2 linked regions of the Homo sapiens genome follow. The protein of the gene in region 1 purifies or fractionates together with the protein of each later gene. This does not show direct contact. Each region holds a gene or a part of one and is shown in the gene's direction. Other genes may lie near its edges.

Evidence for each region. The genes of interacting proteins can lie anywhere in the genome.
Region 2: the proteins of AP2A1 (region 1) and RALBP1 purify together in Homo sapiens (affinity purification with mass spectrometry; 5 studies listed by BioGRID and IntAct, with this or other methods). This does not show direct contact.

What each region holds. Positions count from the first base shown.
Region 1 is NC_000019.10:49,776,982-49,784,003, forward strand, and holds part of AP2A1 (AP-2 complex subunit alpha-1), read left to right. Parts: intron 1-3,423; exon of another isoform or gene 3,424-3,611; coding exon of another isoform or gene 3,612-3,729; intron 3,730-4,775; coding exon 4,776-4,844; intron 4,845-4,965; coding exon 4,966-5,108; intron 5,109-5,549; coding exon 5,550-5,743; intron 5,744-7,022.
Region 2 is NC_000018.10:9,471,334-9,478,533, forward strand, and holds the start of RALBP1 (ralA-binding protein 1), read left to right. Parts: upstream 1-4,179; 5' UTR 4,180-4,358; intron 4,359-4,361; exon of another isoform or gene 4,362-4,953; intron 4,954-6,931; exon of another isoform or gene 6,932-7,189; intron 7,190-7,200. UniProt on the Homo sapiens protein: Multifunctional protein that functions as a downstream effector of RALA and RALB. As a GTPase-activating protein/GAP can inactivate CDC42 and RAC1 by stimulating their GTPase activity.

The sequences.
Region 1 (7,022 bases):
ACTTTGGGAGGCTGAGGCGGGTGGATCACTTGAGGTCAGAAGTTCAAAACCAGTCTGGTCAACATGGTGAAACCCTGTCTCTACTAAAAATGCGGAAAAAAAAAAAAGCCAGGTGTGGTGGTGGGTGCCTGTAATCCCAACTGCTCGGGAGGCTGAGGTAGGAGAATCGCTTGAACCTGGGAGGTGGAGGTTGCAGTGAGCCAAGATGGTGCCATTGCACTGTAGCCTGGGTGACAGAGCGAGACTCTGTCTCAAGAAAAAAAGTAAAAATAAAGCCTATTTAAAGAAAAATATACATATATATGCATATTTGTATATATATGTAAATACATTTTAAATACAATTTAAGTAATACTTTAAAAAGAGATTTCCAGCCGGGCGCGGTGGCTCATGCCTGTAATCATAGCACTTTGGGAGGCTGAGGCGGGCGGATCACCAGGTCAGGAGATTGAGACCATCCTAGCTAACATGGTGAAACCCCATCTCTACTAAATATACAAAAAATTAGCCAGGCATGGTGGCGGGCGCCTGTAGCCCCAGCTACTTGGGAGGCTGAGGCAGGAGAATGGCGTGAACCTGGGAGGCAGAGCTTGAAGTGAGCAGAGATGGTGCCACTGCACTCCATCCTGGGCGACAAAGCGAGACTCCATCACAAAAAAAAAAAAAAAGATTTCCTGGCAGTAAGCGGTGGCCCATGCCTATAATCCCAGCACTTCGGGAGGCTGAGGTGGGCGGAGGAGTTGAGACCACCCTGGGCAACATGGCAAAACCCTATCTCTACAAAAAATAGAAAAAAAATTAGCTGAGTGTGGTGGCGCACCTCACAGTCCCAGCTACCTGGGAGGCTGAGATGGGAGGGTCATTTGAGCCCAAGGGGCCAAGACTGCAGTGAGCTGAGATCAAACCATTGCATTCCAACCTCAGTGAAAGAGTGAGACCCCGTCTCAAGAAAAAGAGAGGAAATCTATATATTATAGATATAATAATATGTATTTCTTTAAATGAATACTAGTTAAAGAAATACGTAAATATAAATATATAAGTACATATGATATATATTTCTTTAAATTTAAAGAATATTTAAAGAATACATATACATGCACATATTTGTGTATATATTTAAATCATTTCAAGTACAATTGAGTGAATACACTCGTGTATTAACGATGGGGATATGTTCTGAGAAATGCATCGTTAGGTGGTTTTGTTGTGGTGTGAACATCCTGGAGTGTGCTTACACAAATTGAGATGGTATAGCCCACCACTCACTGAGGCTCTGTGGCGCAGCTTGTTGCTGCTGGGCTGTAAACCTGCACAGTGGCCAGGCGTGGTGGCTTACACCTGTAATCCCAGCACTTTGGGAGGCTGAGGCAGGCAGATCACTTGAGGTCAGGAGTTTGAGACCAGCCTGGCCAACGTGGTGAAACCTCGTCTCTACTAAAAATACACTAATTAGCTGGGTGTGGTGACGCATGCCTGTCATCCCAGCTACTCAGGAGGCTGAGGTAGGAGAATCACTTGAACCCAGGAGGCGGAGGTTGCAGTGAGCTGAGATCACGCCATTGCTCTCCAGCCTGGGCGACAAGAGTGAAACTGCGTCTCAAGATAAAACAAAAAAACCTGCACAGCATGGGACTGTCCTGTAGGCAACCGTGACTCAGTAAGTATTTGTGCATCTAAACATAGAAAAGGAGCAGTCGAAATAAGGCATTAGAATCGTATGGAACCACTGCAGTGTGTGCGGTTTGTTGCTGACTGAAATGTTGATATGCGGGGCAGGACTGTATTGAAATAATACATATTATTTAAATTAAGTAATACATATATTTAAATAACACATATTCTTTAAATATGTGTATACTCTTTATATATACTATATTTATGGTATGCATATGTATATATACGTATTTATGACAAAACCATATATATATAGGCCAGGCATGGTGGCTCATACCTGTAATCCCAGCACTTTGGGTGGCTGAGGCAGGTGGATCACTTGAAGTCAGGAGTTCGAGATCAGCCTGGGCAACATAGTAAGACCTCATTGCTACCAAAAAAAAAAAAAAAAATTAGGGCTGGGCGAAGTGGCTCACTCCTGTAATCCCAACACTTTGAGAGGCCAATGTGGGCAGATCACGAGGTCAGGAGATTGAGACCATGCTGGCTAACATGCTGAAACCCCATCTCTACTAAAAATACAAAAAATTAGCTAGGGGTGGGTGGCAGGCGCCTGTAGTCCCAGCTACTTGGGAGGCTGAGGCAGGACAATTGCTTGAACCTGGGAGGCAGAGGTTGCAGTGAGCTGAAATTGCGCCACTGCACTCCAGCCTGGGTGACACAGTGAGACTCCGTCTCAAAAAAAAAAAAAAAAAAAAATTAGTTGAATGTGGTGTTATGCACCTGTAGTCCCAGCGACTTTGGAGGCTGAGGCACAAGAATCACTGAACCCAGGAGGCAGAGGTTGCAGTGAGCCGAGATTGCACCACTGCACTCCAGCCTGGGCTACAAAAAAAAAAAAAAAAAAAAAAAACAGAAACAGGCAAAATTAATTTTAATAATATGTCTCTATAACCCAGTACACCCAAATTATTATTTCAGCATGTGATCAATACTTTATAATTTGTATTGTTTTATTTAGTTGACACACAAGTTCTCACTGTGTTGTCCAGGCTGGTCTCCAACTCCTGGGCTCAAGCCATCCTCCTGCCTCACATGCGTGAGCCACCACGCCTAGCCCCTATAATTTTTACTGAAATATTTTACATTTTTTCTCCACACTGTCTTCTAAATCCCGTGTATGTTTGCTGTTGACAGCCCCTCTCAGTTTGGAATGGCCACATTTCAGGATCTCAGGAGCCACTGGCTGGCAACTGCTATATTGGATGGTGCAGCGCTAGGGTCCTCTTAGCACTGATCAGGAGGTGCTAATCAGAGGGGCTTCCTGGAGGAGGTGATACCTGAAGTGAGGCTTATGGGAGCTTCCATAGAAGTTGGGAGCAGGGACAAGACAGGATTTCTAGAGAGAAGGATGGCACATATACTTGCTTTCTCAGTCATTGACTCATTTGTTGAATGCACACCCCACCCTGCTGGGGACTACGCCCTGAAGGATGTGGGTCAGAGCAGATCTCTGCCCCTTCCATAACTAGACATTTATAGAGCACCTGCTGTATGCAGGGCACTGCTCTAGGAGCTCCCTCCTGATGCTTACAGTCTGAAGTGGGAGGAAGTTCGACAGTGGAGAGAAATAAAATTGTGACATGGTGAAATGTACCAGAGAGGACTTCTTGAAAAATAACTCTTTAAGCAGAATAATAAAGAATTGACTTTAAGGAAGTGAAACGGAACGGCCTTTCAGGGGTGGCAGGAGCCGAGACCCAAATGATGGGAAGATGACAGGGGAGGGGTGGCCCCAGGAAGAGGGCACAGCTTGTGTGAAGGCCCTTGAGGCAAGAGGATGTGCGTGTTCCCGGAGCAAAATGGAGGCCAGGGGGCCTGGATGGACAGTAGGGGTCTGAGGGGTGACACCGGCAGGGTTGCTGTGACAGGGGCAGAGGACTTGATGGGCCGTGGAGTGGAGCACCCCCAGCTGGCATCACAGAGCCCAGGATATGGAAACACGAGGGAGGCAAGAAGGCTGGAGGGGAGGCTGCTTCACTGACCTGAGCGAGCGAGCATGGGATCTGGATGAAGTGGTCATCGTGGAGGTGCTCAAGACATGTTCTGAAGGTCAAGTTAGGAGGAGGTGGCTGGGCACAGTGGCTCATACCTGTAATCCCAGCATTTTGGGAGGCTGAGGTGGGAGGATCGCTGGATCCCAGGAGTTTAAGGTCACAGTGAGCTATGATTGCACCACTGCACTGCAGCCTGGGCGACAGTCTAAGACCCTGTCTCAAAAATTAAAAGGACGAGGCAGTAGCCCGATTGGCGTGAGGATGTCCAGGTTCTGTTTGGAGGAGAAGAGGGAACGGTAGAACCTGTCAAGGGAGGGATGAAGTCTGGGGTGAGTGGAACAGGGACAGGAGAAGCAGAGAGGGCAGCCGAGAGCATCCAGTCGGATTGTGCTCTGAAGGGGGTGCTGTAGGGCATTGAGGAGCATGGAGGAAGCAGAGACCTGGCCTGCAGGATCAGGGGAGGCTTTCTGTGCTTATTCCACAAGCAGGTCCTGTCAGAGGTGTAGGAATGTCCCAGACAAATTGGGGAGAGGTTGGCAGCCAGAGAACAGGAGGCAGTGGGGACAGGCCACGCGGGAGAGGACAAAGCCATGGCTGTGGGGACAAAGGGGGTGAGGACAGCACCCAAGGGTCTGACCTGGTGACTGGGTGGACAGTGGGACCTTCATGGGATTGAGAACTGGAAGAGGCAGTGAGCTCAGTGGTAGGGGTGAGCACCCTGCGGCCAGCCAAGCTCTTTATTCATTCATTCATTCATCACATGTTCATCGCATGTGGGGAGTGGGGACAGGAGCTCTCAGGGAGCGTGTCTGGGGCCCTGAGGAGCCCCACAAATCAGGGGCCACAGTGGTAGGAGGAAGGAGAGAGGAAGTCAGGGACAGCCCAAGGGTGTGTGCTCTGTGCTGTGGGGCTCAGCCAGCGGTGGTTCTTCCCTCTTTGAAACTCCCAGCCAGAGAAGGGGTCCTGGCCTGTCCTGAGCCCCAGGGCTTGGGGGCGGAGAAGATCTGCCCTTCCTGCTGGGTGGGGCCGCGCCTAGGAAAGAGAGGGCAGGTGGCTGACTCCCCAGACCCCTCACTGCCTACCCTCCTCCTCCTCTCCCAGGTAAGAGCAAAGAGGCGGAAATTAAGAGAATCAACAAGGAACTGGCCAACATCCGCTCCAAGTTCAAAGGTAGGCTGGGGGCCCAACTTCTGGTTCTGAGGGAGGAGGGGGCTGGGAGCTGGGGCTCCTGTGACCTATCCTGTGACCCTTCCTTATTTCTGGCTCCCCTTTCCTCCTTCCTCTGCCCTAGGAGACAAAGCCTTGGATGGCTACAGTAAGAAAAAATATGTGTGTAAACTGCTTTTCATCTTCCTGCTTGGCCATGACATTGACTTTGGGCACATGGAGGCTGTGAATCTGTTGAGTTCCAATAAATACACAGAGAAGCAAATAGTGAGTCTGGAGAGGGGGGTGCCAGGGCCTGGACTCCTGGGTCTGCGGGGGAGGGGGCTGGAGGTCTGGACTCCTGGATCTGGGGGAGGAGGGGGTCTAGGGGTCTGGACTCCTGGGTATGAGGGAGGAGGGGGTCTGGGGCTCTGGACTGCTGGGTCTGAGGGAGGAGGGGGCTGGGGGTCTGGACTCCCCATTCTGAGGGAGGAGGGCTGGAAGCCCAGACTCCTGGGTCTGAGGGTTGAATCTGGGGCCTGGACTCGTGGGTCTGAGGGAGGAGGGGCCTGGGGGCCTGGACTTGTGGGTCTGAGGGAGGAGGGGCCTGGGGGCCTGGACTCCTGGGTCTGAGGTTGAATCTGGGGCCTGGACTCCTGGGTCTGAGGGTTGGATCTGGGGCCACTCAGTCACAAGGCTCCTAGCCATCCACGACCTCCCTCCCCACAGGGTTACCTGTTCATTTCTGTGCTGGTGAACTCGAACTCGGAGCTGATCCGCCTCATCAACAACGCCATCAAGAATGACCTGGCCAGCCGCAACCCCACCTTCATGTGCCTGGCCCTGCACTGCATCGCCAACGTGGGCAGCCGGGAGATGGGCGAGGCCTTTGCCGCTGACATCCCCCGCATCCTGGTGGCCGGGTAAGGCACTGGGGACCCGTTGGCAGTGGGGGGCCTGGGGGTGATGAGTCCCAGCCAAGTGTGAGGCTCAGAGAGGCTCTGTTGCCTGCCCAAGGTCTCCCAGCCGAGATGTGGGCTAACGCTGGGCTGGGGACCCAGTGGTTCCGGTGGCAGCCCCATACTTGTCTCTTCCCGTGATACGAAGCTGACTTGATGGTGTGAGGCTGCTCCCGGCAAAGCCAGTGGGGTGTTTCTGAACTGCAGAATTCTAACACCTACGATAAGAGGCGTAACTGTGCTATGTGGGTGACGGCCCTCCAGAACTTCCTCATCTTCTCCATTCATTCACCAAACATTTACTGAGCACATACTATGTGCCAGGCACTGTGCTGATTGCTGGGGATGTTGTATTGTCCAGAGATGGACACGGTCATTGCCCTCCTGTGTTCATGGTCTGGAGCAGGAGACAAATGGTGATGGAAGAATTGCAGGATGAAGTGTAGAATTTGCCAGGTGCGATGGCTCATGTAATCGCTGCATTTGGGGAGGCTGAGGCAGGTAGATTGCTTGAGTCTAGGAGTTTGAGACCAGCCTGGGCAACATGGCAAAATCCCAATCTCTACTAAAAATACCAAAAATTGCCAGGGCATGGTGGCGTGCACCTATAGTCCCAGCTACTCGGGAAGCTGAGGTGGGAGGATCTCCTGAGCTGGGGAGGCCTAGGCTGCAATGAGTTGTGGTTGCGCCAGTGTACTCCAGCTTGGTGTGCACACAGGTGAGACTTCTATTTCTGGCAGTGTGGTCAGCTAGATACCCGACTCATGTTCTCCCTGAAACCTAACTGTCAATATTGGATAAAAGAGGAAAGACAATATTATTTAATGGATTCATGAGGTAGCCAGAAAATGAGGAGCACACAGGCCACAAGCTAAGAGAAGCCGGGCACCCAAGCAGATGAGCCGCGTGCTGGAGCCAGCATTTGCTTAGAAGGCATTTGCTGAACTGGGTGAACCCGAGTATCGGTTTTGGGGCCCTGCAGCCTCTGGGAACAGAAGACAAAGCTTGTCCGAGAAGTTCTCGAAGGCTGTACTTCAAAGTGAGAGTGACCTAGAAATAAACCCCCTTGGGGACTATGAGGAAAATTACCTGTCTGAAACGTTGGCACGGAGCAGCCCTCAGACTGGTTTTCAGCCTGACTTTACCCTATCTGGGTAGTCCAAAAGCCCCTAAGTCAACCTTTAGTTTAAAGTGATGGAAACTGGAGGTTCCCTAGTGCTTCACAGAAGCAAACACGAGCCTT
Region 2 (7,200 bases), on another chromosome or scaffold:
GCCCCGCCCCAAGTCCCCAAAGTCCACTATATCATTCTTATGCCTTTGCATTCTCATAGCTTAGCTCCCAAGTATAAGTGAGAACACACGGTATTTGGTTTTCCATTCCTGAGTTGCTTCATTTAGAATAATGGCCTCCAGCTTCACCCAAGTTGCTGCAAAAGACTATTTCATTCCTTTTTATGGCTGTGTAGTATTTCATGGTATATATATATATATATTATATATATTATAATAATATATGATATATCATATATATTATATATATTATATAAGATATTATATATATATCACATTTTCTTTACCCACTCATTGGTTGATGGACACCCAGGTTGGTTCTATATCTTTTGAATTGCAAATTGTGCTGCTATAAACATGTGTGTGCATATGTTTTTCATATAATGACTTCTTTTCCTTTGCATAGATACCCAATAGTGGGATTGCTGGATCAAATGGTAGTTCTACTTTTAGTTGTTTAAGGAAACTCCATACTGTTTTCCATAGTGGTTGTACTAGTTTACATTCCCTGTTTTTTCTTTTTCTATTTAAAGCTACAGTCTATGTCCTTGAGTCTGGCTTATTGCTAAAAATATCCTCTTTTTTATGGATGTGTCATTATAGCTCTTCTTTTACTTCATTTTTCTGTTTTTTGAATACGATAATTTCTCTATCTTCAAGTACACCTTTTTTGCCATCTCAAATCTTTCACTGAGATTATGTAATACAATTTATATTTCTCTTCTATATTTTTCAACTCTAGAAATTTCATTTTTATAGAATCATTTCCCTATTGATATCCTTTATATGTTAAAGAATTATCATTATATTTTCCTTTAATTCTTTGAAAAATGTTTACTTTTTAAAACATAATTATAAGACCTACTTTCAAGAGTTTGCTTCTGAATCCAGTATTTGAGCCCAATGGGTCTGTTTCTATTGGTTGCTATTTTCTTCCTCAGAGTGGGTGACACTTTACTGTTTCTTTGCATAAACCATGATTGTTGGTTGAAAAGCAGATATTTCATATATTGCAGCAATTCTAGATGTTTTATTTTTCTTAGTTTTGTTGTTGTTGTTGTTGTTGTTTTATCTTCCTGGATTTACACAGATTTAAAATCTGTCTCTATATGGCCTGTGGCTGCTGGTATCTTTGCTCTGTTTTTCAATTCACATTTTTATATTTACCCTGACTTTCTGGGCTTTGTCCCTGTGTTTGCATAGCTGTGGCTAGTCAATGATTTGGCAGTGGTTGCACTCAAACACCTTGATTTGGGAGTCTTCTTCCCTCTGCTAATGGATCTGTGTGTGGATTAAGGAATACATTCACAGTTGCCACCAGTTCTCAAGTCTCCCTTGGATTTACTTAACAGGTCTCTTGGGTCAACCCCAGGCAGATGCATAGTTTCCCAATCAGTCAGAGATGTGTGGAGATGTAATTAACAAATAGAGTATTTCTGTGGGGAAGTAGACTCTATAAAAAAGGATGATATTTCTAGAGTTGAAAAGTACAGGCTGGAGTGAGGTGGTGTGACCATAACTCTTCAATGACTCTTATTTCTAAAATCTCCCTGTTATATTTTTGACTGGCTTGCCATTTGCCCCACCTGGGACTGTAACCTCAGGTAAGCACAGCTGTGGGTTTGCCCTGTTCATTTCCATATGAGTTTGTCACTTTTAGTTGGCAAAGCCTTGGGTTTTTGACCACCCGCCCCAAATTGAGTCCATCCCTTTGGCAGCAAAGCTGCTAGTTTTCTTGGCTATTCCTACCCACACTGGCAAAACTGCAGTTCTGGTGCAACAGGGTGGGAGAGAAGCAGCCTCAGGCCAGAAGGCCACAGACATCTACTGTCCCTGCTAGCTGTTTCTGAAGAATAGATGTTTCTCAAATTGTTTTCTGTATTTGTTTGATTTCCAGTGCTCTGAAATGGTTGTTTTTGCCAATTTATCCAATTTTATACTGGTTTTGTGTGCAGAGAATTGCTGACTATGCCACACAGACATAGCTAAAAGTCCCTTCCACAGTTTTTTACGTAGGAACCTGTATTAGTTAGGACCTTTCAGAGTCATGTAAAAGAAATTCAACTGAATTAGTTAGGACTTTTAGAATTTTAATATGAACTGGCTTAAACAGTACAGGAAATTTGTGGTTCACAATTCTGGATAGTCTGTAAGATGGCCTTGCTCACAATCCCGAATAGTCTATAGGATAGTCCATAGAATCAAACAGGTGAGGTTTGATACTGCAGCTCAAATCATGCCACCAAACACAAGGTTCTTCTCCATCTTTCCCGCATTCATTTGACAGTACTGACTTCAACCCCAGGCTCTACTTGTTGCTGTCCCTCTAAACTCCCATCCCTCTAGGGTTTCCCCTTATAGGAGGAAAACGGTTGCCACATTTCCAGGCATCATATACTTACACCATGCTAGAGGAGCAAGGAAGCTACAGTTTACTGGAAGCCTCAGCCCCAGTCTTTGTGGGTTCATTGTTTCTGACTGGGCTTGTGACCATCTCTGCTGCTAGAGGGAATGGTTATGTTGCCTGGCTTAAATGGAAGGAATAAATGCTCAAGTGGCAGCCAACAAATACATTCAATATCCACACATATTGGCTCCAAATAATAAATCAATGAATGAGTGGGCTCACCCACTTAGGCTCACATGCTCACAGCACTTAAAGAGCTCCACAAACCATGCCCTCCAAATGAAACCACGGTCTACATTCTGCCAGCTCTTTCTCCCTTTCCATTTCTCCTTTCTTCTCTTTCACACCCTCACCTTTGGCTAGGCCACTCGATGTTGCAAGAAACACGTCCATCAGCAATTGCCTCAGTAGAAAACTCCCTCTGCTCCCCTCCTGCATCCACATAGCAGCTTCAGGCAAGGCCTCCATAAGGCCCAGCGTGGATCAGTGCCTGCCCCTTGGCCGAATCAGTGCTGTCACAGGCAGAGAATTGTCACTGCCATGCTCACCTGCCCAACCCAGTGGTCAGAGAAGACTGTTCTACTGCGAGAGGAGCCATGAGAAGGCTTTTCCGAAAGTCAAAGACCAATGGCTACCTCAGACCATCCCGTATCCACTCGTGGGAGGCCCCTGAATGAATCTAAGGCCCCAGGGGTTGAACTTTACTGAGTAGGGAGCGCAGAGTACTAGGGACAAATTTACCGCCCGCTTTGAGGAAAGCTGATGTGGGAGCAGAGAGCAAGATGGATAGCAGCGGCCAATCTAAACGGGCAACGAAGTGCCACAGAGTGCTGCACGTAGGAATGCGAGTGACAGGTAGGGTCGTCTATTCCAAGTCCCTCCTCTCCCCTAATAAACTGCCACATTTCAGAAAACACGAAGACTGCTGAAGCCGTTTCCAGCCTTCGCTACGCATTAGCAGAGCAACTCAACAAGCCTGGGTGAAAGGCTTCTCGAAGAAATTCAGTTATCTCTACTGCCAGCCAAACACGGACTGGGCAGCTTTCCTCGGGGGCTGCTCGGTAACTGCTGAGCCGGGGGCGCGCTGAAGCCCTGCAGAAGCCCACACCCGCTTCAGGAATTCCGTGGATGTTCCCGACAGAGGTTTATTCCCGCCTATCCCTACAGGCCCACGGCGCTCTTTCCTCCAATCCCACACCCAGTCGAAGGCGGGGCAGCCGCCCCACCCAGCGGCCAGCCGGGCGGCCCCCAGTCTGGTTTAACTGGTTGGAACGACTAAAGCACGCTGGCGCAAGGAAAGCTCTCAACTTCGGGAGCTGAGGCGCAGGCTGGCCAGAGCGTGGAGAGGAAAGCCCTTTCCATCCTCAAGGCCGTTGCAGGAGATGCCCGCGAGCCACCTTCGCCAGCACCACACCGGGGTAAGCCGTCCGTCCCCGAAACCCGCAAGGCCACCGACTGCGCAGGCGCCTGCAGAGCACTGGCCCTCGGCGCGTTCTCTCGCGCTCTTCTTCAGTCTCCTCAGCGAGCCTGGGGACGAAGGGGGCGCGGTGCCTCCTGGGTGTTGTAGTTTGCTTCCTTGGCGAGAGGCCTTCGGGCTGGCTGGACGCCGGGGCCTTGGGAACTACGCCTCCCAGCGCGCCCCGCGCGAGAGCCCAGGTCGCCTGCCCTTGACGGCTTCAGCCGTCTGAGCGGAGAGGAGGATCCGGGAAGCCGGCTGCGGCGGGAGGAGGGAATGCGCGTGCGCGCTGGACCGCCTCGTCCCGTTCCGTCCCAATCATTGTAAACAGGCAGAGGCTGGGCGGGGTGGGAATGGGGCGCCCGAGGCCGGCCTGGGGCGCAGCGCAGGAGGCGGCTCCGGTGGCTGCGGCGGCAGCGTGAGCGCGAGGAGGCGGAGGCTGCGGCGGGGCGGACGGTCGCGCGGCGGCAGGCACAGGTCAGTCGCAGGGAGCGGTCGCGTGCTAGGGTCGCGGCGATACCCCTGGAGTGCCCGAGGAACCCTCTCCCGCGCCGGCCTCGCGCCCGCGTCTGTCAGGCAGCGTGTGGGGCTCGGTGCTCGCAGCGCTCGGGTTTGAAGTTGGGGGTGGGGGGCGTGGCTGCCCCTGGCGTGGGTTCCTCCCCGGAAAGCTTCGCCCCAGTTTTCGCCCCCCTTGGCCGTGCGTCCCTCCCACTGGCCGACGGGCCTCCCTTCGTGGCGTCCTCGTTTGTGGTGCTCTCGGGGGCCGGGGGTGGAGAGTTAGGAGTCCCCAGGCCTCGGGGAAGCTCTTGGGGGGCGCCTGGACAGAGGCTAGGGGACCCAGCCCTCACGGTTGGTGGATCGTGCCCGGCATAGTGGCCAGGCTCCAGGGCTTACCCAGGGGACCAGGACAGGCTCCTGGTGTCGCCCACCGCTGGCACTGAGCAGTGGGCGCCTTTGGGTGCTGCGATCCTTCCTTCAGGTTTCAGTGGGAATGGACAGACAGATCTGAAGTTGAAAATTCTTTTCACAACTCATGTTCAACTATGTGTGTTGTCAGAATGCTCTTAATGAGGTCAGTGTTCTCCCTCTTTTTTTTAAAACTGATCGTTGTGAGAGTGAAACAGGTTTTACAGAATATTTAACACCTCCGTCTTCCCTGAAGTAATTCTGCTGTTTCAAGTTTTGGGATTCAGTATTACAAAGCCTTCCTCTTGAGCAAGGCCTAGTACAATTCTTCAAGGTCCCTAGCATGTTAATTCGAGGTGTTTTGAACGTGCATATACAGGAAGTGCAGCCGTTTGGCCGTTGAGTTAGTGCTCCATCCAGCCTTGTTAGAAAAGCTTTCGCTGAATTTTTAATTTAGTGGAGTGGTCATGTTCTAATGCTGCAGTACTTTGGGGAGTATTCCATTATACTTGGCAGTTATTAACGAAATACTGAACTTGTGATAAGGTTTTGTTTTGGTGCTCAGCATTTCTAAATGAATAAGTGGGACTGTGAATAAGAAAGATCACCTCACTTTCTGTTTTTAGAGTTATTGTGGTCATTTGATAACTCCTTTCTGTCTTTGTGAAAATAATTACTGTAAGCTGGAGTGGCGGTAGTAGGGGTAGGAAGGAGGTCAGTAGAGTGGTTTCCACCTCTCATTCAAAGTATCTGGTAGATCCAAGTGGGGTAGGTTAGTTAACAGTAGCTTTTTTTTTTTTTTTTTAGTTTTTTATTTTTTGAGACAGAGTTTCGCTCTTGTTGCCCAGGTTGGAGTGCAATGGCATGATCTCAGCTCACCACAGCCTCTGCCTCCTGGGTTCAAACGATTCTGCTGCCTCAGCCTCCTGAGGGGATTACAGGCATGCGCCATCACGCCCGGCTAATTTTATATTTTTAGTAGAGACATTTTCTCCATGTTGGTCAGGCTGGTCTTGAACTCCCGACCTCAGGTGATCTGCCCGCCTAGGCCTCCCAAAGCGCTGGGATTACAGGCGTGTGCCACCGCGCCCTGCCAACAGTAGTAGCTTTTGAGAAGTGACTCTTTAAACAAGGTATCTCGAAACAATGTAATACAACTTAGTTTGCTTTCTCTTCAGGATATTGTTTCTAATTATGGATCTTATCCAGACTATTTCTCCCCTAATTTAGAATAGGAAAGTGGTATCAGAAAGTGCATAATAACTTTAATTTGTACAGTTATATTTGCATAGTTGTTTGCTTGGCAAGAAGAGATCGGGCCCAGCATGTAACCCAAAAGAATATTGTTTCTGTTTTGAAAGATCCCTGATAGAAACTTATGTTAGTTTGTATAAGAGGGTACAAGGAAAAATGCAGATTATTTAGAATACAGGAATTACTATGTAGAAAGTACTGTGACCAGGTGAAGAGGACTTAAAGATACAGAAGGCAGTGTTCCTGCCTTCAGGGTAGTTGAACCTTATCTCTTACTTTAACTGTCAACAAGTACAAGATTGTTTTGATTGAAGAACATATGCGGGTACAGTGGATGTACAAAGGAGATAGTGGTCAGTTTCTTAAAGTGAAGAAAAGAGCTGAAGAAGAGGGAAACTGTAAGGAAAAACTATGTAGAAGGTGATGAAAATCAGGAGTGTACAGGCATAGAAAGAATGGGCATTTAGGTAGAAGGAGCAGTGTGAGAAAAAGCATGGGAGTCTAAAATTAGAGAGTAGCATCTGCAAAAATAGCAAGTATAATACAGGGTGGTGGCAAGACCTGAAACTGGGGAGATAGGCAGAGACCAAATTATGGATCTTGCAGACCATCAGAATAATTACAATTTTATTTTATAAGCAAATAGGAGTCATTGAGAGGACAAAGAAGAGACCTAAGCCAGCTCAGCCCATTTTTAACCCTCTGCTATAGGTCAGGCACTGTATTAGGTACTGTATATTTTATGTCCTTAAGCTTAAAGAAGGCTTAGTCATGACTAATGCAGAAATTGGGGGGCTAGGGCAGGGATGGGGAAGGAACTTTTAGAGGGAAAGGTGGGCAGAAACGTAGGTGAGAAAGAACATGGAACACTTTTTTTTTTCCCAATACAGACACCATCACTCAGTTTTATTGGTTTTGTCTTATTAGCCTCTGAAGTAGGCAATTATTGGTGTGAACATACATTTTGAAAAACATCTGGAGTCAAGAGTGCACGAGTGTCAACTCAGTGCAAGTACTGTTGGTAAGCATTATGTCCCGAGGATGAAATCGGAGGACCAACAGGCCCAGGAGGCTTCACAGCGAACACCACATGCCTCGCGCCCAAAAGGACAGCAGACCGCGCTTCAGAACGGAACCGCCTTCTCCATGTAAACTTTTG